3 separate regions of the Homo sapiens genome follow, and regions 1 and 2 are each linked to region 3. The links come from fine-mapping of genetic effects on gene expression. A gene starts in region 3. Each other region holds a variant in brackets. All regions are shown on one strand. Distances are from middle to middle.

What was found. PIP is the estimated chance that this variant, and not a neighbour inherited with it, causes the effect.
Region 1: its variant is the best candidate, but not a certain one, in a credible set for the expression of VKORC1 in cerebral cortex (GTEx, PIP 0.63).
Region 2: its variant is the best candidate, but not a certain one, in a credible set for the expression of VKORC1 in whole blood (TOPMed, PIP 0.51).

Annotation. Positions count from the first base shown.
Region 1 is chr16:31,368,434-31,379,329 of GRCh38, forward strand. ITGAX (integrin subunit alpha X) reads left to right here. Exons shown (of 30, transcript NM_000887.5): 15 at 2,651-2,781; 16 at 2,901-3,064; 17 at 3,197-3,351; 18 at 3,945-4,076; 19 at 4,164-4,237; 20 at 4,816-4,957; 21 at 8,366-8,482; 22 at 8,567-8,646; 23 at 8,749-8,832. Among named protein-coding and RNA genes, the nearest start is that of ITGAX, 19 kb to the left of the region's middle. RefSeq lists an enhancer at 126-732. The variant T/C (reference allele first, on the strand shown) is at 4,800.
Region 2 is chr16:30,934,765-30,939,764 of GRCh38, forward strand. The region is part of intron 7 of FBXL19 (F-box and leucine rich repeat protein 19); the gene reads left to right. Among named protein-coding and RNA genes, the nearest start is that of ORAI3, 12 kb to the right of the region's middle. RefSeq lists an enhancer at 364-658. The variant C/CTCCT (reference allele first, on the strand shown) is at 2,202.
Region 3 is chr16:31,089,645-31,100,540 of GRCh38, forward strand. VKORC1 (vitamin K epoxide reductase complex subunit 1) reads right to left here and starts at 5,153. Exons shown (of 3, transcript NM_024006.6): 1 at 4,913-5,153; 2 at 3,668-3,777; 3 at 1,210-1,698. The coding sequence starts at 5,085. The coding sequence ends at 1,490. LOC124903680 (zinc finger protein ENSP00000375192-like) reads right to left here and starts at 6,361. Exons shown (of 1, transcript XM_047435012.1): 1 at 5,240-6,361. The coding sequence starts at 5,734. The coding sequence ends at 5,240. RefSeq lists enhancers at 3,378-4,086, 5,267-5,446, 5,477-5,526, 5,577-5,626, 6,142-6,321.

The DNA.
Region 1 (10,896 bases), 280 kb after region 3:
GTTGCAGTGAGCCGAGATCACACCACTGCACTCTAGCCTGGGCGACAGAGTGAAAGTGTGTCTCAAAAAAAAAAAAAAAAAGAATATTATATAAACGTAGTTGATAAATCAGCATAGAATTTGAGAGAATTGACTCCAACTTTCTTTTTTTATTTTTTATTTTTTATTTATTTTTTTATTTTTTATTTTTTTTATTGATCATTCTTGGGTGTTTCTCGCAGAGGGGGATTTCGCAGGGTCATAGGACAATAGTGGAGGGAAGGTCAGCAGATAAACAAGTGAACAAAGGTCTCTGGTTTTCCCAGGCAGAGGACCCTGCGGCCTTCCGCAGTGTTTGTGTCCCTGGGTACTTGAGATTAGGGAGTGGTGATGACTCTTAACGAGCATGCTGCCTTCAAGCATCTGTTTAACAAAGCACATCTTGCACCGCCCTTAATCCATTTAACCCTGAGTGGACACAGCACATGTTTCAGAGAGCACAGGGTTGGGGGTAAGGTCACAGATCAAGAGGATCCCAAGGCAGAAGAATTTTTCTTAGTACAGAACAAAATGAAAAATCTCCCATGTCTACTTCTTTCTACACAGACACGGCAACCATCCGATTTCTCAATCTTTTCCCCACCTTTCCCCCCTTTCGATTCCACAAAACCGCCATTGTCATCATGGCCCGTTCTCAATGAGCTGTTGGGTACACCTCCCAGACGGGGTGGTGGCCGGGCAGAGGGGCTCCTCACTTCCCAGTAGGGGCGGCCGGGCAGAGGTGCCCCTCACCTCCCGGACGGGGCGGCTGGCCGGGCGGGGGGCTGACCCCCCCACCTCCCTCCTGGACGAGGCAGCTGGCCGGGCGGGGGGCTGACCCCCCCCCCCACCTCCCTCCCGGACGGGGCAGCTGGCCGGGCAGAGGGTCTCCTCACTTCCCAGTAGGGGCGGCCGGGCAGAGGCGCCCCTCACCTCCCGGACGACTCCAACTTTCAAAGAAGCTCTACTGTGGCCAAATGTTATCAACCAGCATCGCATGCTCCAGAGAAATTTCATGAAAGGAAGAGTCCATCCAGGCAGCAAACTTCCTCACGGTCTTATTTTAGGAAATTGCCATAGCCACCCCAACCTCCAGCAGTTGCCACTGTGATCAGTCAGCCGTGTCACCATCAGGCAAGACCCTCCACCAGCAAAAAGATTATGCCTTGCTAAAGGCTTAAACGATTGTTAGCATTTTTTACCAATCAAATATTTTATTTTTATTTTTGAACTTTTAGATTTAGAGGGGGTACACCTAGCCTTTCTAGACTCCCTCAGTAATTGGTAAATTTCTCTTTTTATTTTGTTATTATTCCTTTTTTTCTTTTCTTTTTTTTAATTTTTATTTTTTAGAGACAGAATCTCATCATGTCACTCAGGCTGGAGTTCAGTGGCGCAATCATAGCTGACTGCAGCCTCGAACTCCTGGACTGAAGAGATCCTCCTGCCAAAGACTCCTGAGTAGCTGGGACCACAGGCACAAAGCCAGTGTGCCCTGCCCATTATTATTACCTTTTTTTTTGAGACAGAGTCTCGCTCTGTCACCCAGACTGGAGCACAGTGGTGCAATCTCCGCTCACTGCAACCTCTGCCTCCCGGGTTCAAGTGATTCTCCTGCCTCAGCCTCCTGAGCAGCTTGGATTGCAGGTATGTGCCATCATGCCCAGCTAATTTTTGTTTATTTAGTAGAAACGGGGTTTCACCATGTTGGCCAGGCTGGTCTGGAACTCCTGACCTCAGATGACCCACCCGCCTCGGCCTCCCAAAGTGTTGGGATTACAGGTGTGAGCCACCGCGTCCAGCCATTATTATCACTTTTAATGGCTGCTAGTTCCAGGGTGCACAGAGATTTAAAGGGCACATTCTTCCAGGGATTGGGCATAACATGAGCACTGGGAATGAAGGTGATAGGTTCTACAGGGGAGGCAGTGCCTGGGAGGGTGGATCTGGGTGTGGGTGCGACCACTCCCTACCCCACCGCGGCTTTTTCTTGTCCTTTGAAGAGACAGAGTGACAGCAAGAAACAAAAAGGGGACTTGGGCCTGGGGTTGGACGGTCTGGTGTTAGGTCTGCAGTCAGCCTCTTAAAGGCTACCTGGGGTTGACACTGTCCCCAACCTCTCTCCTGCATCTTTGCAACGAGGGAGGTGAGGTTGGACAAACTCTGAGGTCCCTTTCAGCCTTAATACTCATTGTGATATATTATTGACTGCTGGCTGTATCCTGGGTGCTGTTCTAAGAACCGTAGGAATTCCTCTCCTGAGCATGGCTAAACTCTGAGCTAATAGTATCATTATATGAAAGATGAGGAAACGGAGGCACAGACAGATTGAGTCCTTGCCCACGGCCTCGTGGCTCATACGTGGAGGAGTCAGAATTGGAACTAGAGACTGATCGAATGAATGACACTCGGGTCACCAGGACACCCTTCCTATCTCCACTCTTACATCTGTTTCTTAGCAATCATCTCCCAACTCCTACCTCCTCTTTTCAGGTTCTTCTTGGTGACATCTGTTCACAACTCACCCCTTCTCTCCCTTTCCGATGGTCCTACCTCCATATTCCCCTTGTTACTTATTTCCAACTTCTTCCCCTACTTTCCATCTTGATTCACCCTTCTCTCCTCTGGCCAGCGGATCGCGGGCTCCCAGCTCTCCTCCAGGCTGCAGTATTTTGGGCAGGCACTGAGCGGGGGTCAAGACCTCACCCAGGATGGACTGGTGGACCTGGCTGTGGGGGCCCGGGGCCAGGTGCTCCTGCTCAGGTGAGAGCAGCCTTTCTCAGAGGCTCCCCAGGTGGTCCTAGGTTCAGATGGGGGTGCCCACCCCACGTGGTGCTCCCAGGAGCCGACGGCCTGTCCTCAGCTCGGTGCTCTGCCCGCAGGACCAGACCTGTGCTCTGGGTGGGGGTGAGCATGCAGTTCATACCTGCCGAGATCCCCAGGTCTGCGTTTGAGTGTCGGGAGCAGGTGGTCTCTGAGCAGACCCTGGTACAGTCCAACATCTGCCTTTACATTGACAAACGTTCTAAGAACCTGCTTGGGAGCCGTGAGTCCCCTCCCCTCCAACCCAGGACACCCTGACCTCTGGAGTCCCCCATCCCAGGCCCCTGTCTCCCACCCTGCTCATTGTCCACCCAAGGAGTTCCTGTCTCAACGCCGTCCCTGCGACCGCCTACAGGTGACCTCCAAAGCTCTGTGACCTTGGACCTGGCCCTCGACCCTGGCCGCCTGAGTCCCCGTGCCACCTTCCAGGAAACAAAGAACCGGAGTCTGAGCCGAGTCCGAGTCCTCGGGCTGAAGGCACACTGTGAAAACTTCAACCTGCTGCTCCCGGTGCGTCTGGGCATGAACGTGGGTGGCGGCCGCGCTGGGGCTGGCAGAAGGCAGGGCAGGGAGAGAACAGGCTGTGTTCCGGCCTCCCTGTGGCTCAGCCCAGCACAGGACCAGCCATGCAGGACGTGCTTACTGCACGTTAGCCAGTGAGTGAGTGAGCGAGCAAACAAGTGATGAGATCGGCTGCAATTTCCAGGGGCCACACGATTGGATTTCAGGAAAGAGAATTGGGCAACCTGAGAGAGCTCTGGGGCTTCCGGCTGGGCTTTTTTTCAGGCATTCACTGGACAGGGGTTTATCGAGCTGCTCCTGGGAGACAGGCCTTGCCCTGGGGGCCAGGGGCATAGGTGGCCAAAACAGTCATTGCTGATCGGGAGGTCTGGGGGGGGGGAGGAAAAAAACAAAGACAAACAAGGGGAGAGAACAGAGAGGGTGTCAGGGAGGCCTCCTGAAGGCGGTGACGCTGAGCAGGCTCTGGAGGAAGCTGAAGCCGCGCGGGAGCTGGGCAGAGGCAGGATAAGAACTGCGGATGAGGCCGAGCGCAGCTCTTACCCTCCCCTTACCCTCCGCTCCCCGCGACGCCCGTCCCCCAGAGCTGCGTGGAGGACTCTGTGACCCCCATTACCTTGCGTCTGAACTTCACGCTGGTGGGCAAGCCCCTCCTTGCCTTCAGAAACCTGCGGCCTATGCTGGCCGCCGATGCTCAGAGATACTTCACGGCCTCCGTGAGTCCTGGCACTGGGTCTCCCAGAGAGGGTGCACAGCGTGGGGCCTGGGTCTCGGAGAAAACCCCCCGTTGCCTTCCCACGCAGCTACCCTTTGAGAAGAACTGTGGAGCCGACCATATCTGCCAGGACAATCTCGGCATCTCCTTCAGCTTCCCAGGGTGAGCGCCCCCACCTTAGACCTGCCCTACTGCCCCAGCCTCCTTCCTGGAATCTGGGACTCCTGCCTCTGGCTCTCCCTAACATTGTCTCATCCTATAGTCAAAACCCAGGTGTCTTGGCTGGGCACAGTGGCTCACGCCTGTAATCCCAGCACTTTGGGAGGCCGAGGTGGGAGGATCTTTTGAGGCCAGGAGTTAGGGATCAGCCTGGGCAACAGAGCGAGATCCCATTTCCACAAAAACAAAACAACAACAACAACAACAACAACAACATCACTTGAGTGTGGTAGAGCATGCCTATAGTCCCAGCTACTTGGGAGGCTGAAGCTTAAGGATTGCTTGAGCTCTGGAGTTGGAGGCTGCAGTGAGCCATAATCACACCACTGCACTCCAGCCTGGGTGAAAGAGCAGGACTCTGTCTCTTAAAAAAAAAGAAGAAGAAGAAGAAGAAGAAGAAGAAGAACCCAGGGGTCCGTCCCCTGTCTATCTCCCAAATCCCCACCCACCCCATTTTATCCCAGACCATTTCTAGCCTCAGTCACAGAATCATCTTCTCCTTTCC[T/C]TCACCTGATACCCAGCTTGAAGTCCCTGCTGGTGGGGAGTAACCTGGAGCTGAACGCAGAAGTGATGGTGTGGAATGACGGGGAAGACTCCTACGGAACCACCATCACCTTCTCCCACCCCGCAGGACTGTCCTACCGCTACGTGGCAGAGGGCCAGGTGCACCCTCTGGGGAAGGAGGAGGAGGCAGGGCTGGGCGTTAGCGTAGATTCCCGTGCGGTTCAGAACCCGGGCTGGGCTTGGAGGTGGTAGTGCCATCTGGGGCACGCCTCTGCTCGTGTGGGTGTTCAACTTTGGGCATCGCAGTTTAAGGACACTGACTATCAGGAATGATTTCCTGAGAGGCCACTAATGTGGAGACAGAGGGGAACCTGCCCAAATTTCTTTCTATTCCATATTATATCAGTATTCCTCTTTTAAATGAAAACATACCTCAGCCTTCAAATATTTTAAAACACTGTTCTGTAGAAGCAAGGGGTTGAATTTATTGGTCACTCTACATTAAGGCTTGGCGACCTTTTTCTATAAAGGGCTAGATAGTAAATATTTCAGCTTCGTGGTCTGCGTGGTCTGTGTCACAGCTGCTAACCTCTGGTGTTGTGGAATGAAAGCAGCCATTGACATGAATGAGTTTATGAGTGAATATACCTGCGATGCAGTAAAACTTTATAAAAATAGGTAGTGGCTGTTGGTTGCCAATCCCTGCTTTAAAATGCAGAACTAGGACCACGGGGAGTCAAAGAGAACCAGATTTTTTAAACAAAGATGTTATTATGGCTGGGAGTGGTGGCTCACGCCTGTAATCCCAGGACTTCGGGAGGTTGAGGCAGGCGGATCACCGGAGGTCAGGAGTTTGAGACCAGCCTGGCCAACATGGTGAAACCCCATCTCTACGAAAAATACAAAAATTAGCTGGGTGTGGTGGCAGGTGCCTGTGATCCCAGCTACTGGGGAGGCCGAGGTGAGAGAACTGCTTGAACCCGGAAGACGGAGGTTGCAGTGAGCTGAGATTGTGCCACTGCACTCCAGCCTGCACAACAGAGCAAGACTCTGTCTAAAAAAAAAAAGTTATTATGAAAAATTTAAAACATTTACAAAAGTAGAAAGTAGTTCAACAAACCTCCCCAAAACTTGTCACCTAGATTCAACAATTAGCAGCATTTTGCCACATTTGTTTCATCAATTTTTCCCCTTTGCTAAGGTATTTTCTTTATTTCTTTATTTTTGAGACAGGGTTTTGCTCTGTCACACAGGCTGGAGTGCAGTGGCACAATTTCAGCTTACTGTAGCCTTGACCTCCTGGGCTCAAGCGATCCTCCCATCTCAGCCTCCTGAGTAGCTAGAACCACATGCACACACCACCACACCTGGCTAATTTTTTAATTTTTTTTGTAGAGTTGGGGTCTTACCATGCTGCCCAAACTGGTCTCTAACCCCTGGGTTCAAGCAGTCCTCCTATCTTAGCTTCCCAAAGTGTTGGAGTTACAGACATGAGCCACTGTGCCTGACCTGCTAAAGTATTTTAAAACAAATCTCAGACATGGGGGTCATTGTACTCCTCCTTATTCACTCTGCTATGGTTTGAATGCATCACCCAATGTTCGTGTGTTGGACACTTAATCCCCAATGCAACAGTGTTGAAAGGTGAAACCTTTTAAAGGTGATTAGGTTATGAGGGCTTTGCCCTCATGAATGGATGAATACTATTATCTCAAGAGTAGATTAGTTATTTCAGGAGTGGGTTTCCTTCCTTCCTTTCTTCTTTCTTTTTCTTTCTTTCTTTTCCTTCTTTCTTTCTTTCCTTGAGAGGGTCTTGCTCTGTTGCCCAGGCTAGGGTGCAGTGGCACGATCTTGGCTCACTGCAGCCTCTGCCTCCCGAATTCAAGCAATTCTTGTGCCTCAGCCTCCTGAGTAGCTGGGATTACAGGTGCCCACTGCCACGCCCAGCTAAGTTTTGCATTTTTAGTAGAGATGGGGTTTCACCATGTTGGGCAGTCTGGTCTTGAACTCCTGACCTCAAATGATCCACCCGATTCGGCCTCCCAAAGTACTAGGATTACAGGCGTAAGCCACGGAGCCTAGCCCAGGAGTGGGTTTCTAATTAAAGGATGAGTTTGGCCCCCTTTCCCTCTCACTCTCACATGCACTGCCTTGCACATGCAGCACAAAGGCCCTCACCAGATGCTGGTGCCATGTTCTTGGACTTCCCAGCCTCCAGAACCACAAAGCTTCTATTGATACATTACCTAGTTTGCGGTAATCTGTTATAGCAGCAGGGAACAGACAAAGACACACTCTATAGTTCTGAACAATGAGGACCTCTTATATGACCTCAACACCATTATCACACCCAATGAAATAAGTGATTCCTTGGTATTAAGATCATAGTCAAAATTGTGTAACTGTCTCAAAAATATCTTTTTACTTCTGGTCTATTTGAACGAAAATTCGAACTAGGTCCATACATGATGGTTGGTTGTTATTTCTGCTGTCTCTCTTAGTCTAATATTCCCAGCGGAAGCGCATTTTGATTAACGTATAAAAGAACACAGCAGGAAAGGCCATCTCTTGCATGTGAGGGGTGATCACTGTCAATGAAAGTGCTCCTAGACATATCAACCAAATGTAATGGGTGGACCTTTGCTGAATATTGATTTTAACAAATGAGCTGTAAAATAACATTTTTGGAGACAATCTAAGAAAATAGAACATGACCAGTATATTGGTATATTAAGGAGTAATTGTTAATTTTGTTGGCTGTGATTTGTTGGTTCTTGTGGTTACATTTAAAATACCCTTATCTATTGGTGGTATACACTGAAGTATTTCTAGATGAAACAATATGGTGTTTGGAATGTGCTTTAAAGTGTTCAGAAAGAGAACATAGCAGAAACAAGAGTAGAAAAATGTTGGTTACTTAAAATGAGTGATGGTTATATGGGGTTGATTTTCCAGTCTCTCTATTTTTTAATGTGTTTTAAATTTTCCATTATAAGAGGCCTTTAAAATAACAATAAAAAGGTGAACATTTTAATACATTTGAGATTTCTACTTTGGAAGAAAGTTTGACCAGATAGCTATGGGGGAGCTTTTAAAAACGTAACCTTGGCTGGACATGGTGGCTCATACCTGTAATCCTAGTGTTTTGGGGGGACAAGATGGGAGGATTGCTTGAGGCCAGGAGTTCAAGACCAGCCTGGGCAATATAGCGAGGTCCCATTTATAAAAAAATTTTTTTAAAATTAGCCAGGCATGGTGGTGGTGTGTGCCTGTAGTCCTAGCTACTCAGGAGGCTGAGGCAAGAGGATGGCTTGAGGCCAGAGTTTGAGGCTGCAGTGAGCTGTGATTGCATCACTGCTTTCTAGCCTGGGTGACAGAGTGAGACCTGGTCTCAAAAAACAAACAAACAAACAAAAACATAAGCTTAAGGTGGGCTCCAGGAAGCTTTATCACTACTTCGTGGCGTGTCTTTGGAATGCTGTTATATTAGGTTGGTGCAAAAGTAATTGGGTTTTTGCCATTGCTTTCAATTTCAACTAATACTCCTCTACTTTTTCTCATGCCTAGAAACAAGGGCAGCTGCGTTCCCTGCACCTGACATGTGACAGCGCCCCAGTTGGGAGCCAGGGCACCTGGAGCACCAGCTGCAGAATCAACCACCTCATCTTCCGTGGCGGCGCCCAGGTCAGCCTGGCTTCTGTCCCCTCACTGCTCCCCTGCCCCACCCTGTCTTTACTGCTCTGTGACCTCTCAGTTCCTTTTCCTCAGATCACCTTCTTGGCTACCTTTGACGTCTCCCCCAAGGCTGTCCTGGGAGACCGGCTGCTTCTGACAGCCAATGTGAGCAGGTGAGCCGGGCCAGGCCAGGGGCAGTGCCCCTCATCTCCAGCCTCACACCCCATTCTCCTCCTCTGGGGCCTCTGGCAACTGAGTCTCTCCTCTTTCTCCAGTGAGAACAACACTCCCAGGACCAGCAAGACCACCTTCCAGCTGGAGCTCCCGGTGAAGTATGCTGTCTACACTGTGGTTAGCAGGTCAGCAGGTACCCCACTGCAGGAAAAAGGGTTCTTCTCTCTGACCTCAAAAAGAAAAAAAAAAAAAGGCCTTGAAACGCTGCCACAGAGGGTGAGATAAGGTGTTTGAAACTAAAAGGTCAGGTGTTTCAGCAGACACCTTCCTTCAGCCAATGCCTTCCTCGAATTTGCTGTGTGCCAGGCAGGGTGCTGTGGTTATTTTCCATACATTCATTTGACATTCATTGAAGATTTACTGAGCCCCCATTATGTGTGATCAAAACCAGACATGAACCCTCGCCCTTGTGGGGTGTGCCTTGCTGGATGTTCTCCTGTGCCTGGTGTTTCCCACTCTCACCTGCACCTGCATGCGTGGAGGCTCCCAGCCAGGTGCACGCTCTGAGCTCGTGTGCTGGGGTGTGCCCCAGGCTCTCATACCCCTTGGCAGGGGACCCACAGGCAGGGCTCACCTACTCTAGGCATGTGTGGTCCACAGCTTGGCCACACATGGCAGGTGTGATCCACAGCTTGGCCACACATGGCAGGTGTGACTCTGTGGGTTAGGGCACAGGGAGTGCCAGGTTGGGGCATTTCTGGGGGAGGCCAAGGTGGGAGGATTGCTTGAGGCCAGGAGTTCAGGATCAGCCTGGGCAATATAGTGAGACCCTAGCTCTACAAAAAATTGGCAGAGGAGGAATGAGGCTTCAGAGTAGGCGTGGTGGGCTGGTGTTTGGACTATGCCAGCTGGAGGACAGGTGCCGGAAGAGTGAAGCAGTGAGGCAGTGGTGAGACTGGCCACCTGTGTGATGGTCCCAGCTGCCCACCAGGTCTCCAGGCTTGTGCCCAAAAAGGGCTCAGGAGGTGTTAAACTGAGACCTCATGAAGAGTCTGCTGTGGGCCCTCCCTCCCCTCCAAGCCCCAGGCCCGGAAAAGCCAAGGAAATGGGAAAAAAGGGCCCCCGGGGAGGTATGTGGGGGACTGGGAAGGGGCAATGCTCAGTAGCATTTGGTCAACAGCGTCAGCCTGGGCCACCCCAACTCTGTGCTGTGTCCCACAGAGCCCTGGCATCCTACATCCCCACAAAGGGATGGAAGGAAAGCGGAGGGGCAGGCCATGGCCCCTGCTCTCCTGCAGTCAGTGGCAGAGCTCTCTGCTCCGTTCATTGTACCGACTACCCGGCCCCACTGGCAGCCTCCTCTGCAGGCAGCTATGAGCTCTTTGCCTCATTTTTTTTTTTTTAAAGCCCAGGTCTTGCTCTGTTGCCCAGGCTGGAGTGCAGTGGTGTGATCACAGCTCACAGCAGCCTTGAACTCCTCTTGGGCTCAAGCGAGCCTCCCACCTCAGCCTCCCAAGTAGTTGAGACTACAGATGTGTGCCACCATGCCTGGCTAATTTAAAAAATTGTTTTGGAGAGATGGGGTCTTGCTATGTTGCCCAGGCTGATCTTGAATCCTGGCCTCAAGTGATCCTCCCACCTCAACCTCCCAAAGTGCTGGGATTGCAGGTGTGAGCCACTGCACTCAGCCAATTAGCACTTGTTTGAAGCCCAGCCCTGCTTTTCTAGACTCTCTCTCTTTTTTTTTTTTTTTGAGACCAAGTCTCACTGTGTTGCCCAGGCTGGAGTGCAGTTGTACCATCTCTGCTCACTGCAACCTCCGCCTCCTGGCTCCAAGCAATTCTCGTGCCTCAGCCTCCCAAGTAGCTGGGATTACAGGCACCTGCCACCACACCTGGCTAATTTTTGTATTTTTAGTAGAGATGGTGTTTCTCCATGTTGGCCAGGCTGGTCTTGAACTCCCGACCTCAGGTGATCTGCCTGTCTCAGCCTGTCAAAGTGCTGGGATTATAGGCGTGAGCACTGTGCCTGGTCTCTAAACTCTCTCTCTCTGTTTTTTTTTGAGAGAGAGAGAGTCTTGCTCTGTCATTCAGTGGCGTGATCTGGGCTCACTGCAACCTCTGTCCCCTGGGCTCAAACAATTCTCCTGTCTCAGCCTCCTGAGTAGCTGGGATTACAGGTGCACACCATCATGCCTGGCTAATTTTTGTATTTTTAGTAGAGACAGGGTTTCACCATGTTGGCCAGGG
Region 2 (5,000 bases), 160 kb before region 3:
ATTCCCCAGGCTCAGGAGGAGCAGTTTCCAGGAAGGTAAAGAGCTCAGATGACTGACGTGTGTGGTGTGCTCAGGACGTGTGGGTCTGATGCTCAGGAGAAAGATACACGTTTGGGAGTTCTCAGCCTGTAGGTAGCAAGCCAAGCAGCTTTGATGAAGAGGGCAAAAGATCATACATCAGTACTTGTGAGTTAGAGCAAGAGCCTAGCCAGATAATTGGAGGAGCTCATGGCCAGAGGTGTGCCCCCGAGTAGAGAACGAGGCAGGAGGGAATGTGGTAAGCCAAGGAGGATGCTGGTGAGAGGCCGTGGGAGATCAAGGACCAGGAAGTGGTGGTTGGATTTTGCTACCAGGAGGCCTTAGTGTCCTCAGCTGTGCTCTGGGGGTTGGGGGTCCAAAGCCAGATTGAATGGAGTCGAGAACATCAGCTTCCAGGCAGGGACTTGATTCGTTTGTTCCTGTTGTGTTCCTGGTGTCTAATGGCACCTGGCGGACAGTGGGCAGTGAGATCATCTTCGCTGAATGAGTGAAGGACAAGAGAGCAGGATGCAGTGTGGAAGGATGTACAGAGGGTGGCGCTGGAGAGGCGTGTGTAGGGGACAGCAGGAGGCTGCAGGCTTTCCTGTCTGGTGGCTTCCATCTTTTCTTGGAACTGAAAGGGAAGTGATCCCTTAAGAGTGAAGAGTGAAGAGTGGAGAGAGGGCAGCAGGGAAGGCGTGCAGGGGTTATTGAGATGCAAGGAAGAGGGTTGGGGCTTTTGAGGACATGGACAGAGAGAAGGCAGCAAGGAAGGGACTGGAATACAAGGTGATCATGGTCGGGTAGGGTCTGGAGGTGGACAGATTGGAGGGCAGTGGTAGCATCGGGGCCCAGAGAGCTACAAGAGGTCGGAACTGGCAGTGCTTGGAGCCCTAGGGGCCGTGAGCCTTCAGAGGGCAGTAAGGGCTGGTCCAGCTCCCTGTTCCCGGGGGCTTCTGCAAGAGGGAGGGTTAGGATTGGAATTGAGGGTTTGCAGGTCGGCCTAGTAGGAGAGGACTCATTGCGGGGTGGCTGGAGTCCAGGAGGAAGTGAATGGGTTAGGGGACTTTGGCATCAAGCCACATGTCTCTGGGACGACGGCACACCTTGGCTCTTAGAGCTTTCCCTGCCTCTTGTCTCAGTGTCATTCTCCAGCTTAGAAAGAACCCACCTGTGGCTCCCTGTCGCCCTCACAACAGACGCCCACCATCGCAGTCCTGTTGGACATATGGACATGAACTGGGCCTACCGACTGCACCAACCACTTCCCTGAGCTGTGTCCCTTCCTTGTCACAGCAACCTCTGAAGGAAGCGCTGTTCTTCACCCCACTGTACAGTTTGGGAAATGGAAGCCCACACAGGGCGAGTGACTTGCCTGAGGCCCCCCAAAGCCTGGAGGTGGCAGAGCTGGGATTTAGATCCCCATAGCTCACATCCTCAGCTCTGGGCTCTGTGACCATGATAGTCTATGGCCTGGCATTCCAGCCCTCCTTGACATGACACCCATCCCTCCTTTGCAGCTCCACTCTTGCCTCTTCTCTCCTCAGAATTCAGGCTTTCCACCCAGACGGGCTAGGTGGAACCCCGCCTCTACTACCTACCACTTGGTAGTTGTGGGACCTTGAATACATTTCTCAACCTTTCTGGGCCTCATTTTTTTTTTTTTTTTTGAGACGGAGTCTCACTCTGTCACCCAGGCTGGCGACAATCTCGGCTCACTGCAAGCTCCGCCTCCCGGATTCACGCCATTCTCCTGCCTCAGCCTCCTGAGTAACTGGGACTACAGGTGCCTGCCACCACGCCTGGCTAATTTTTTTTCTTTTTTTTTTTTTTTTTTTGTTTTTTAGTAGAGACGGGGTTTCACCATGTTAGCCAGGATGGTCTCGACCTCCTGACCTCATGATCCACCTGCCTCAGCCTCCCAAAGTGCTGGGATTACAGGCGTGAGCCAGCGCGCCCGACCTTTTTTTTTTTTTTTGAGGCAGAGTCTGACTCTGTTACCCAGGCTGGAGTGGAATGCTGTGGTCTCGGCTCACTGCAACCTCTGCCTCCTGGGTTCAAGTGATTCTCCTGCCTCAGCCTCCTGAGTAGCTGGGACTGCAGGCGCGTGCCACCACACCCAGCTAATTTTTGTATTTTTAGTAGAGACGAGGTTTCACTATGTTGGCCAGGCTGGTCTTGAA[C/CTCCT]TCCTGACCTCGTGATCCGCCCTCCTTGGCCTCCCAAAGTGCTGGGATTAACAGGCGTGAGCCACCGCACACGCTTGCCTCATTTTCTTTACTGTAGAAAGGAGATGATGATGGTAATGTTGACCTCCTAGGGCTGGCGTGAGGTTCAGTGCTTAATGCATGGGACAGTGCCTGGCACACAGTGAACCCTGGATGATGGCTGGTTAGTAGTGCTGAAGTCACTGTGATCAGCGTGACTCTGGTTATGATGATGAGTTCCTGTGGCCTGGGGTTTCCAGAGCTCTCCGTCTTGTCTCTTGTGGGCCTGGACACAGGTTCTTGCCCATCTGGAACACACACCCTCCTCCCCCTCCCCTTGCTGAAATAACTACTGCTTTCCTCGGAGTCTCAGGTCAGGCATTGTCCCCCCAGGAGGCTCCCCCACCCAGTCCTTGAGGTGACTCTTACCATGCCCCTTGTCACCTCAGTTACTGCGGACTGTCCATGTCTCCCTGACTGTATGGCAGGAACCTGTCATCTTTGCCTCCTCCGTGCCCAGTGGAAGCCAGATACTTGGGATCAGTAGGGCCCTCAGTGACTGTTGGTTGTCCCTCTGAGGTTTAACCCCAGTGTCCTGGTTGTACAAGAGCAGGGGGACTGATGAGCTGTAGCCAAGGAAGGTGTGGGAGACTTCCTGGAAGAGGAGGCACTGGAGCCGAGCCACGAAGGCTCTGGGTTGGCATTTCTGGCAGAGGCACAGCATGTGCCACAACGTGTTGGCATCAGACAGCACTGTGTCTATAGGTGGGCAGGTGTGTGGCCTGGCTGTTGTGGAGTATGATACAGAAACACAACTGGGGTCCTGTGGGTGCCCCCAGGGAAAGGGGCTTCCTTCCAGCTGTGGACCGTGGAAGGGAAGTGGCTTCAAGGAAGTGGTGACAGTTAAGCTGGGAGGCAGTCGTGGCAGGGTCACAGTGGGCAGAGAGAGGTTTTGGATAGAGCAGATGTCACCGATTTTCTTGCTCACAGAAAGAGCAAAGGGGCAGGACCTAGGGGTAGAAGCTGGGTCGGGCATGAGTTGGTTTTTTTCCTTTTCATGTTTTGAATTGGAGAGATTTGCAGATGTTTATTAGTTGAGAGGAAGGAATCAGGAGAGGGAGAGGCTAGAATGCCAGAAAAGCAGGATGAGGGTAGGAGGGAACAGGAGAGCGAGTGGCAGAGGGGTGAAGGTGTTCGGACTGAAGCCTTGGTGTCTGTGCCCTCAGCCTTCTCTAAAACGTCACACCAGGGCTGGGCCCAGTGGCTCACGCCTGTAATCCCAGCACTTTGGGAGGCTGAGGCAGGAGAATTGCTTGAGCCCAGGGGTTCAAGACAAGCTTGGGCAACATAGTGAGACCCCCATCTCTATTAAAAAAGAAAAAATTAGCTAAGCATACCTGTGGTCCCAGCCACATGGGAGGCTGAGGCAAGGGGATCACTTGAGCCCAGGAGTTTGAGGCTGCAGTGAGCTATGATTGCATCACTGAGCTCTAGCCTGGGCGACAGTGAGACTTTGTCTGAAAAAAATAATGAAATGACACACTGGGCCTCTGGAGTAGGTCTGGCATTTTTCAGTGACACAAAAATATGGCTTAATCCCTCTGTGAGTTTTGGAAAGGAAGTCTTTCCATTGGAAGGAAGTCTCTCCATCGGGTGCTTTTTTTCTTTTTTGAGATGGAGTCTTGCTCTGTCGCCCAGGCTGGAGTGCAGTGGTGCAGTCTCGGCTCACTGCCAGCTCCGCCTCCTGGGTTCACGCCATTCTCCTGCCTCAGCCTCCTGAGTAGCTGGGACTACAGGCGCCTGCCACCACGCCCGGCTAATCTTTTGTATTTTTAGCAGATACGAGGTTTCACCGTATTAGCCAGGATGGTCTCCATCTCCTGATCTCGTGATCCGCCTGCCTCGGCCTCCCAAAGTGCTGGGATTACAGGCGTGAGCCACTGCGCCTGGCCACTATTGGGTGCTTTTTCTAACACTTCTCTGATACTTATCTCCCTGTTTAACAAAAGTAGTCTTCAGGTAGTAGCCTAAAGCCACAGCAACACCTGGCTAGGATTTAATAACTCTGGTCTTTTTTGTGTTTTATTTATTTATTTATTTATTTTTGAGACAGAGTCTCGCTCTGTCACCCAGGCTGGAGTGCAGTGGCGCAATCTCGGCTTACTGCAAGCTCCGCCTCCCAGGTTCATGCCATTCTCCTGCCTTAGCCTCCCAAGTAGCTGGGACTACAGGTGCCCGCCACCACGCCCGGCTAATTTTTTGTATTTTTAGTAGAGATGGGGTTTCACCGTGTTAGCCAGGATGGTCTCAATCTCCTGACCTCGTGATCTGTCCACCTTGGCCTCCCAAAGTGCTGGGATTACACCACACTTGGACTTTTGTGTTTATTTTTAAGATTAACATATTTATGTGAAACAATACTGGGGTTTTTTTTTTTGTTTTTTTTTTGAGACGGAGTCTCGCTCTGTCGCCCAGGCTGGAGTGCAGTGGCACGATCTCGGCTCACTGCAAGCTCCACCTCCCAGATTCACGCCATTCTCCTGCCTCAGCCTCCCGAGTATCTGGGACTACAGGCGCCCTCCACCACGCCCAGCTAATTTTTTGTATTTTTTTTTTAGTAGAGACGGGGTTTCACTGTGTTAGCCTGGATGGTCTTGATCTCCTGACCTAGTGATCCACCCACCTCGGCCTCCCAAAGTGCTGGGATTACACGCATGAGCCACCGCGCCCGGCAACAATACTGGTTTTAAGTGCAAAGAGGAGATGATTCAAAGATAAATC
Region 3 (10,896 bases):
CTGAGGTCGGGAGTGCGAGACCAGCCTGACCAACATAGAGAAACACTGTCTCTACTAAAAATACAAAATTAGCCAGGCCTGGTGGCGCATGCCTGTAATCCCAGCTACTCGGGAGGCTGAGGCAGGAGAATCACTTGAACCTGGGAGGTGGAGGTTGTGGTGAGCCGAAATTGTGCCATTGCACTCCAGCCTGGACAACAAGAGCGAAAGTCCGTCTCAAAAACAAACCAACAAAAAAAAAAGCATATAGATGCTGGAGCCAGATGGACCAGGTGGATTCAAATCCTGAGAGCCTCCTGCAGTAGCTGTGTGATCTCAGGCATACTAATTAGCCACTCTGTCCCTATCATCAAGATAGGGATAATAATAGTACCCACCTCATAAATCACTGTAAAGATTAAACGAGTTTAACACGTTAACACAAGTTTTTTTTTGTTTTTTGTTTTTTTTTGGAGACGGTCTTGCTCTGTTGCTCAGGCTGGAGTGCAGTGATCATGGCTCACTGCAGCCTCAACCTTCTGGGCTCAAGCAGTCTTCCCGCCAGCTTCCCGATTAGTTGGGACTATAGGTACATACACCACCATGCCTGGCTAATTTTTTTTTTTTTTTTTTTTTGTAGAGACAGGGGTCTCACTATTTTGCCCAGGCTGGTCTGGAACTCCTGGCCTCAAGTGATCCTCCTGCCTTGGCCTCCCAAAGTACAGGGATTACAGGTGTGAGCCACTGCACCCTGCCAACACAAGTTCTTAAACAGTGCTTGGCATGTAGGTAAGTGGTCAGGGCATAATAGGCAAAACAAAAACCTTCACAACCTGGCCCTGACCCTCCAAGGCTACCAATACTGGCTTGGAATGGTCGATAAGGCAACTGGAGGGGTTAAAGTTAAACTCAAGGAAGAACTTCCCAGCAAGCATTTACAGAACCAGAAGGGCAGCCTGCCCTTCCAGGTGTGTGCTCAGCCTTCCCAGGAGAGGAGGCCTGGCTCCTGTGGGCAGCAGGAGCGAGCTGCCAGCCTGTTTCCTGGGGGTGGGGGCCAATGGTGCCCCAGGCCTTGCTGACTCCACACACTGGAGATGAGACTACCCATAACCACCCTTCCCAGCAGGCCCTCCACTCTCCCTCTGACTCACCCTTCCCAGCTCCAGAGAAGGCAACACCGAGGGAGGCCCAGCACCACAGTCCATGGCAGACACATGGTTCAGACTTGGCTGATTGATCTAAGAAACTTTATTGCTCAGAACCTTCCCTCCCTGGGCAATGGAAAGAGCTTTGGAGACCAGCCCATGGGGACAGAGTCAGAGGCACTGGGTGTAAAAAAGAGCGAGCGTGTGGCACATTTGGTCCATTGTCATGTGCGGGTATGGCAGGAGGAGGGGGTAATCTAGAAGCCCCACATCTAGGGCCTTCTAGGGACCCAGATATGCCCCCTTAGGCAAGGCTCACATGCCAAAGCAAAGCAGATGAGGTCAGCCTGGCTTGGGTTGAGGGCTCAGTGCCTCTTAGCCTTGCCCTGGGGTTCTTGGACCTTCCGGAAACTGAGCCACATCAGGCTCACGTTGATAGCATAGGTGGTGATACAAACAATGCAGAAATCATAGAGCACGAAGAACAGGATCCAGGCCAGGTAGACAGAACCAGCGAGAGACACCAGGGAGCTCAGCAGCATCAGGACAGAGGCCCAGCGTGTCCGCAGGCAACCTGCAAGGCAGAAGAGGGTCCGGTGTGGGCTTCAGGCACTGGCCACCTCCCGAACACTCCATGATGTCACTGCACTACCTAGATGCCAGGAGCTGCTGGGAAGGGTCTCTAAAACAAGAGGCTCCAGGGCAGATGTGGTGGCTTACGCACGTATTCCAAACACTCTGGGAGGCCGAGGTGGGAAGACTGCTTTAGGCTAGGAGTTCAAGACCAGCTTGGGCAACATAGAAAGACCCGATCTCTATCAAAAATTTAGAAATTCAGCTGGGCACGGTGGCTCATGCCTGTAATCCCAGTATTTTGGGAGGCCAATGGGGGTGGATCACCTGAGGTTAGGAGTTCGAGAGCAGCCTGGCCAACATGGCAAAACCCCATCTCTAATAAAAATACAAAAATTAGCCGGGTGTGTTGATGGGCACCTGTAATCCCAGCTGCTGGGGAGGCTAAGGTGGAGAATCGCTTGAACCTAGGAGGTGGAGGTTGCAGTGAGCCGAGATCATGCCACCACATTCCAGCTTGGGCAGCAAGAGCAAGACTTCGTCTCAAAAAAAAAATGCCCGGTGAGGTTGACTCACGCCTGTAATCCTAGCACTTTGGGAGGCCAAGGCGGATGGATCACCAGGTCAAGAGATTGAGACCATCCTAGCCAACATGGTGAAACCCTGTCTCCACTAAAAATACAAAAATTAGCTGGGCGTGGTGACACGCGCCTGTAGTCCCAGCTACTCAGGAGGCTGAGGCAGGAAAATTGCTTGAACCCGGGAGGCAGAGGTTGCAGTGAGCCAAGATCGTGCCACTGCACTCCAGCCTGGTGACAGAGCGAGACTATGTCGCAAAAAAAAAAAAAAAAAAAAAAAAAAAATTAGCTGGGTGCAGTGACATGCCTATAGTCCTAGCTACTCAGGAGGATCGCTTGAGCCAGGTTACAGTGAGCTATGATTGTGCCACTGCACTCCAGCCTGGGCAACAGAGCAAGATTATTTCTTAAAAAAAAAAAAAAAGAAGGCTTCAACAGGTCCCCTCCAAGGGACTGGTCTCTGAAGCTCTTGCCATTGCCCAGGGAGGGAAAGTTCTGAGCAATAAAATTTCTTAAATAAATCGGCCAAGTCTGAACCATGTGTCAGCCAGGACCATGGTGCTGGGCCTCCCTCAGTGATGCCTTCTCTGGAGCTGGGAAGGGTGACTCAAAGGGAGCGTGGGAGCCTGCTGGGAAGGGTGGTAATGGATAGTCTCATCTCCGGCATATGGCATCAGCAAGGCCTGGGGCGCCATCGTCTTCCACTCCCTTGGTTCCTCTCTCTGTTCTTATGGGACTAGATACAAATTTTCCTGCTGAGCACTAAATGAGACAAAAGATAGCTCATGCTCAGCTTCTCCTTAAAAAGGAATTTCGGCATCTTTTCCACAAAACTGGGGTGTTGGTGGGGCATGGTAGCTCACGCCTGTAATCCCCCCAGCACTTTGGGAGGCTGAGGCAGACAGATTGCTTGAGACCAGCCTGGGCAACATGGCGAGACACCATCTCTACCAAAAAAAAACAAAAACAAAAATTAGCTGGGCATAGTGGTGCACGCCTGTGATTCCAGCTGCTTGGGAGGCTAAGGTGGGAGGATCCCTTGGGCAGGGAGGCAGAGGTTGCCATGAACTGAGATCACGCCAGTGCACACTAAGGGCATCCTAGACCTCACTTTGGGCAACAGAGCCAGACCCTGTCTCAAAACAACAACAAACAAAAAACCTGGGGACCTAGGATGTCTTTAAGGGCCCTTCAGCCTCTAACAGTACTTAAACCAATTAAAAGACTCCTGTTAGTTACCTCCCCACATCCCCACCCGCAGGACGCTCCGTGATGAGCAGCTAGCTGGCTGTCAGCTGTGTGGATCACCAAGATTGCATGGAGTGGGGCTGAGCTGACCAAGGGGGATGAGGGGCGGGGCGGGGCGGGCAGGGAGGGGGCGGAGCCACTCACCTAACAATAGCTGTAGTGTGTAGAAGATGCAACCGAATATGCTGTTGGATTGATTGAGGATGCTGTCCTGTCCCAGCACATGCTCCACCAGCCCGAAACCCCTGCCCCACCTGGCAGAGGGGTGGGGTGGGGTGGAACCAGGTTAGGACTGTCAACCCAGTGCCTTGGACCCTGCCCGAGAAAGGTGATTTCCAAGAAGCCACCTGGGCTATCCTCTGTTCCCCGACCTCCCATCCTAGTCCAAGGGTCGATGATCTCCTGGCACCGGGCACCTTTGGCCACGTCAGGATTCCATGTCACTGACCCTATCCTCCCCTCTCCCCAGACCAGGCCCGGACGTGGCTACTCCGTAGGCCCTGCTTTTCATCTTAGACCTTAAGTAAGTCTCTTTTTTTTTTTTTTTTTTTTTTTTTTTGAGACGGAGTCTCACTCTGGCCCAGGCTGGAGTGCAGTGGCGCGATCTCGGCTCACTGAAACCTCCGCCTCCCGGGTTCAAGCGATTCTCCTGCCTTAGCCCCCCCGAGTAGCTGGGATTAAGGCACCCGCCATAGCGCCCGATTAATTTTTCTATTTTTGGTAGAGACAGGCTTTCACCATGTTGGCCAGGCTGGTCAACTCCTGACTTCAAGTGATCCATCCGCCTCGGCCTCCCAAAGTGCTGGGATTACAGGAGTGGGCCACCGCGCCCGGCCCTTAAGTAATTCTTAAAATGGCAAGGCTGGTATAACGGTTCACTCGGTTTTGCATCAGAGACTGGGAGTCGGGGGCAGATTATCTTTGCCCTGGACCCCAGAATCTCCAGCTCCCTGGCCACTCACTCGCCTCCTCTGTATTCCGTCATTATGCTAACGCCTGGCCATCACGCACAGCCAGACCGGGCCACCTTGTTCCTGGGCGCAGCCATCGCCAACACCCCCCTTCACCTGCGCGCCGTCCTTGAGACCATCGTCAATCTCTACCGCCATCCTGCCTCCCCGCCTTTCCTGGTCACCGTTATTCCTTGGCATCCAATTCACGTGCGAGTCCCCGGAATAATCCCAGTCCCCAGCACTGTCTGGTCCCTTGCCTCGCACTCTTATTTCGAACACCAGTATCGCTGGGTAGCTCAGCCCCTGTGCAACGACCCCGCGAGCAGTCCAGCCCCGTGTCCGTTCCCCGGGCACACCGATCCCAGACTCCAGAATAATCATCTGGCATCCTGGCCGCCCTGCTCCGAGGCCCCACGCCTCCCACTCCCGTGCACACCTGGAGGAGAAGACGCGCGAACAGCTGATGGCGGTGCCCACGTCGCAGAGCGCGCGGTAATCCCGGTCCCGGGCGCGCGCCGCCTTCACGTGCAGCGCGTAGAGCGAGAGCACTAAGCCCGTCAGGCAAAGAGCGAGCCGCACCCAGCCAGGGCTCCCCCAGGTGCTGCCCATTATCTCCAGGTTCCGCCCGAGGCGCCCGCGGAGAAAACCAGCCACGGAGCAGGGGCCGGGCGGCGAATGGCCGCGCCCCTCCTGGCCCTCTGACTCGGCGATTGGCCGGCCGTGCTCGCACTCCACGACCCAAATGGCTGTTCCAGGGCGCTAGTCAAGCGGGCGAGTTAGGAAAACAGCGAAGAATGCCGGGACTAGTGAAGCGGGTAAGGGACGTGCGGAATCGCGGCCCCAGCGGCTGCCAGGCATGATGGGAGTTGTAGTCGGCGCGGCTGCAAGGCATCAAGGGAAATGAAGTCTCCACAGATTTAAAAACTGTTGGCCGGGCACGGTGGCTCACGCTTGTAATCCCAGCACTTTGGGAGGCCGAGGCTGGCGGATTACCTGAGGTCAGGAGTTCAAGACCAGCCTCGCCAACATGGTGAAACCCCATCTCAACTAAAAATACAAAAATTAGCCGGGCGTGGTGGCACATGCCTGTAATCCCAGCTACTCGGGAGGCTGAGGCAGGAGAATTGCTTGAGCCGGGGAGCCGGAGGTTGCAGTGAGCCGAGATCGTGCCACTGCACTCCAGCCAGGCCGACAGAGTGAGACTCTGTCTCAAAAAAAAAAAAGAAAAAAAAAAGTGTGTTAGTGTGGTTAACAGCATTTGCGCTTACCCTATGCCAAGTCCTGTTGTAAGAATTGCAGCATCCGGGACCTAGAGACCAGCGGATCAGGGGATCCAGCGAATACGGCGATCCGATTCGGGAACCAAGCATTTCCCCTGAAACTATTTCAGGCACCATTCGGGCTGCAGCCTCCCATCCTCCCGGGTCCTGCCTCACCAGTGCTTCCTGGTGGTCGGTCTCCCTTTCTCCCATACATTCACAGAACCACTCCTTTGGCCACACACACCCTTGACAGTATCCTAACCTCTCTACTATCATGGCGCCCGCCTGGCAACACCTGAGCTTGCATCAACTCAACAGTCAGTCTCTCCTTTCCAAGCTGTGGGCCAGATGAGGTCTCTCCTTCACAGACGTCCCATCTGATGGTGACCCATCTCTCCTACACCTTCAACCTCTCCATCCTCCCCATCTACACTGCAACTTGTTTCTCTTTCCCATCTCAGAAACAGCAACAAATCTCCCTTCACTAAGAGGTCCTTCACCAGCCTCCTCTCCCGGCATTATCCCATCTACCCCTCCACATTCAAGTTTTTGGAAAGATTCTACACTCCCAGTCTCTACTTCCTCACTTCTTCCTTGCTGCCCACGCCATAAACTAGCTGCTGCCTCCAGCATTGCCCTGACACCTAGTGGCTGGTGTCACCAAGACGCTAGACCCAATGGTTATTTATTTATTTATTTACTTATTTTGAGACGGAGTCTCACTCTGTCGCCCAGGCTGGAGTGCAGCGGTGCCATCTCGGCTCACTGCAACTTCCGCCTCCAGGGTTCAAGTGGTTCTCGTGCCTCAGCCTCCCAAGTAGTTTGGACTACAGGTGCCTGCCACCATGTCTGGCTAATTTTTGTATTTTTAGTAGAGACAGGGTTTCACCATGTTGGCCAGGCTTGTCTTAAACTCCTGACCTCAAGTGATCCACCCACCTCGGCCTCCCAAAATGCTAGGATTATAGGCGTGAGCCACCGCACCCGGCCAATGGTTGTTTTTCAGGTCTTCTCTTGCTTGACTTCCCAGAGGGATCCCTTACTGTTGCACCTACCCTTCTGGGAACTCTCTTCCTCTGGCGTCTGTGATATTTCCCTCTCCTGCTGGCTCCTCCCTCTCCAGATGCTGTTTCTCACATCTACTCTCTTCTAGAGAGTGTGGTAGACAGAATAATGGTCACCAAAGATGTCCCTGCATGAATCCCTGGAACTTGTGAATATGATAGGTTAAATGGCCAAAAGGGAATTAAGGTTGCAGATGGAATTAAGCTGACCAATCTCCTGATTTTATTTTATTTTATTTTGTTTTTGAGGTGGAGTTTCGCTCTTGTTGCCCAACTGGAGTGCAATGGTGTGATCTCGGCTCACTGCAACCTCCGCCTGCCAGGTTCGAGAGATTCTCCTGCCTCAGCCTCCCGAGTAGCTGGGATTACAGGCACCCGCCATCATGCCTGGCTAATTTTTTAAATTTTTAGTAGAGACAGGGTTTCGCTATATTGGCCAGGCTGGTCTTGAACTCCTGACCTCAGGTGATCCGCCCACCTCGGCCTCCCAAAGTGCTGGGATTACAGGCGTGAGCCACCGTGCCCAGCCTATCTATCTATTTATTTATTTATTTTTGAGATGGAGTTTTGCTCTTGTTGCCCAGGCTAGAATGCAATGGTGCTATCTCGACTCACCGCAACCTCCACCTCCCCGGTTAAAGCGATTCTCCTGCCTCAGGCTCCTGAGTAGCTGGGATTATAGGCATGTGCCACCACGCCTGGCTAATTTTTTGTATTTTTAGTAGAGATGGGGTTTCTCCATGTTGGTCAGGCTGGTCTCAAACTCCTGACCTCAGATGATCCACCCACCTGGGCCTCCCAAAGTGCTGGGATTATAGGCGTGAGCCATCATACCAGGCTCTATTGATTTATTTTTATTTTTATTTTTGAGACGGAGTCTCGCTCTGTTGCCTAGGCTGGAGTGCAGTGGCACAATCTTGGCTCATTATAACTTCCGCCCCCCCCCAGGTTCAAGCCATTCTCCTGCCTCAGCCTCCCGAGCAGTTGGGACTACAGGCGCGTGCAACCATGCCTGGCTAATTTTTGTATTTTTAGTAGAGACGGGGTTTCACTGTGTTGGCCAGGCTGGTCTCGAACTCCTGACTTTGTGATCTGCCTGCCTCAGCCTCCCAAAGTGCTGGGATTACAAGTGTAAGCCACCACGCCCAGCCTATTTTGTTTATTTTTTCAAAGACCCTTGACACCCAGGCTGGAGTGTAGTGGCACTGTCATAACTCACTGCAACCTCCGTCTCCCAGGTTCAAGCGATTCTTGCACCTCAGCCTCCCTAGTAGCTAGGAGTACAAGTACGTCCCACCACACCTGGCTAATTTATTTTTATTTTTGTAGAGATGGGGTCTCACTTTGTTTCCCAGGCTGGTCTAAACTTCTGGTTTCAAGCAACCTTCCCACCTCAAAGTGCTGGGAGTACAGGCATGAGCCACCACCACACCTGGCCTAATTTGCTGATTTTTATTTATTTTTTATTATTTATCTTAATTTTTATTTTGAGACAGAGTCTTGCTCTGTCATCCAGGCTGGAGTACGGTGGTGCAATCTCAGCTCACTGCAACCTCCCCCTCTCGGGTTCAAGCAATTCTTGTGCCTCAACCTCCCAAGTAGCTGGGATTATAGGTGCTGGCCACCACGCCTGACTAATTATTGTAATTTTTTTTTTTTTTAGTAGAGACGGGATTTCACCATGTTGGCCAGGCTGGTCTTGAACTCCTGACCTCAAGTGATCCACCTGCCTCAGCCTCTCAAAGTATGGGGATTACGGGTGTGAGCCGCCGTGCCTGGCCCAATTTTTGTATTTTCAGTGGAGATGGGGTTTTGCCATGTTGGCCAGGCTGGTCTGGAACTCCTGACCTCAGGTGACCCGCCTGCCTCCGCCTCTCAAAGTGCTGGGATTACAGGCATAAGCCACCATGCCTGGCCCACAGGGGTCCTTAAAAAATGAAGGAGGATGGCAGAAGAAAGTCAGAGGGAGATGTGAGTAAAGAAAAAAGACACAGAGAGCTGCAATGTTTCTGGTTTGAAGATGGAGGAAGGGGATTGTGAGCTAATAAATACGGGTGGCCTCTAAAGGCAAGAAAGGGTAAAGAACTGGATTCTCACTCTAGAGTCACCGGGAAGGAACTATCAACATCTTGATTTCAGCCCAGTGAGACTCTGTCAGACTTCTAAGCTACAGAACTGTAAGATAAATTTGTGTTGTTTTACATCATTAAATGTGCAGTAACTTGTTACAGCAGCAATTAGAAATGAATACAGAGGACTGGGCATTAGGCCTGTATCTCAGCTTTCTCTGATCTCCTGGTGTGTTCCTGTTATTTATTGTTGGTTTCCCCCAGAATGAGTGATCTAAGAGGAAGCAAAATAGAAGCCGCAATCTCTTTATGACTTAGCCTCAGAAGACACACACTGGGGCCAGGTGCAGTGGCTTATGCCTATAATCCCAGCACTTTGGGAGGCTGAGGCAGGAGGACCACTTGAGCCCAGGAGTTTGAGACACCCTGGACAACACAGGGAGACCCTCACTCTATAAAAAATAAACAAAATTAGCCAGGTGTGGTGGTGCACACCTGTAGTCCCAGAACTTTGGGAGGCTGAGACAAGACAATGACTTGAGCCCAGGAGTTTGAGACAGGTCTGGACAACGTGGTAAGACTCTGTCTTTATAAACATTTTTAAAATTAGGCGGGGCATGGTGGCTCATGCCTGTAATCCCAGCAATTTGGGAGGCTGAGGTGGGTGGATCACCTGAGGTCAGGAGTTTAAGACAAGCTTGGCCAACATGGCGAAACCTCGTCTCTACTAAAAATACAAAAATTAGCCGGGCATGGTGGTGGGTGCCTGTAATCCCAGCTACTCAGGAGGCTGAGGCAGGAGAATCATTTGAACCCGGGAGGTGGAAGTTGTAGTGAGCCGAGATTGCCTTCCTCACTCCAAGAGTTATAAAAGATTTTGACCATATTTTCTTCTAGCATTTAATCAATTAATTAATTAATGTGAGACAGTCCCACTCTGCTGCCCAGGCTGAAATGCAGTGGTGCAATCTCGGCTCACTGCAACCTCTGCCTCCCGGATTCAAGTGATTCTCCTGCCTTAGCCTCCTGAGTAGCTGTGATTACAGGCACCAGCCACTATGCGTGGCTGATTTTTGTGTTTTTAGTAGAGACGGGGTTTCACCATATTGGCCAGGCTGGTCTCAAACTCCTGACCTCATGATCCGCCCTCCTTGGCTTCCTAAAGTGCTGGGATTACAGGCGTGAGCCACTGTGCCTGGCCTTTTTCTTTCTTTTTTTTTTTTTTTCATTAGAGATGAGTTGTTGTTATGTTGCCTCTAACTCCTGGGCTCAAGCAGTTCTCCCACCCTGGCTTCCCAAAGTGCTGCTGGGATTACAGGAGTGAGCCACTGCCCCCAGCCTCTGACAGTTTTTGTGCACTAGGAATTTGGGAAGACAATTTTACCTGGCTATTTCTGGCTCATACAATTGCAGTCAGATGGTGGCTAAAGCTGGAACAATAAGCAGCTAAAACAGCTGAAAGATAACCTAGCATTCTCTCTCCCTTTCTCTGAGTAGTCTCCGAACCTATCTATGTTGTCCTCTGCATGGGCTAGCTTGGGCTTCCTCACAGCATGGCAGCCTTAAGGCTTTAATAGTCAGCTTCCAAAATGGTCCTCAGTGATTCCTGCTTCCTGGTATTGATACCATTGTGAAGTCTCTTCTCACATTGAAAGGGGCTGAACTGGCCCATTGGGATAATGCAGAAATGACAGTGTGTGACTTTAGAGGCTAAATCATGAAGATATTGTGGCTTCCATCTTGCTCCTTTGTAGATCACTCATTCTAGACAAAGCCAGCTACCATGATATGAAAGCACTCAAGTAACCCTAGGGAGAGAGGTCTCCTTAGTGAGGAACTGAGGCCCTGTAAGAAACGTGGGTGTGCTGCAGTCAAGTGGGCATAGGCCAAAGTAAACATCCAGAGTGACTCAGTGAGTTTAGAGTGCAGGCATATAGCTCCACTTGTTATCACAGCCGTGTAGCCATAACATGGGAAGGCTCATCACTTGGCTCTGAGCCACTGTTGTCTGTAAAAGGTATAATT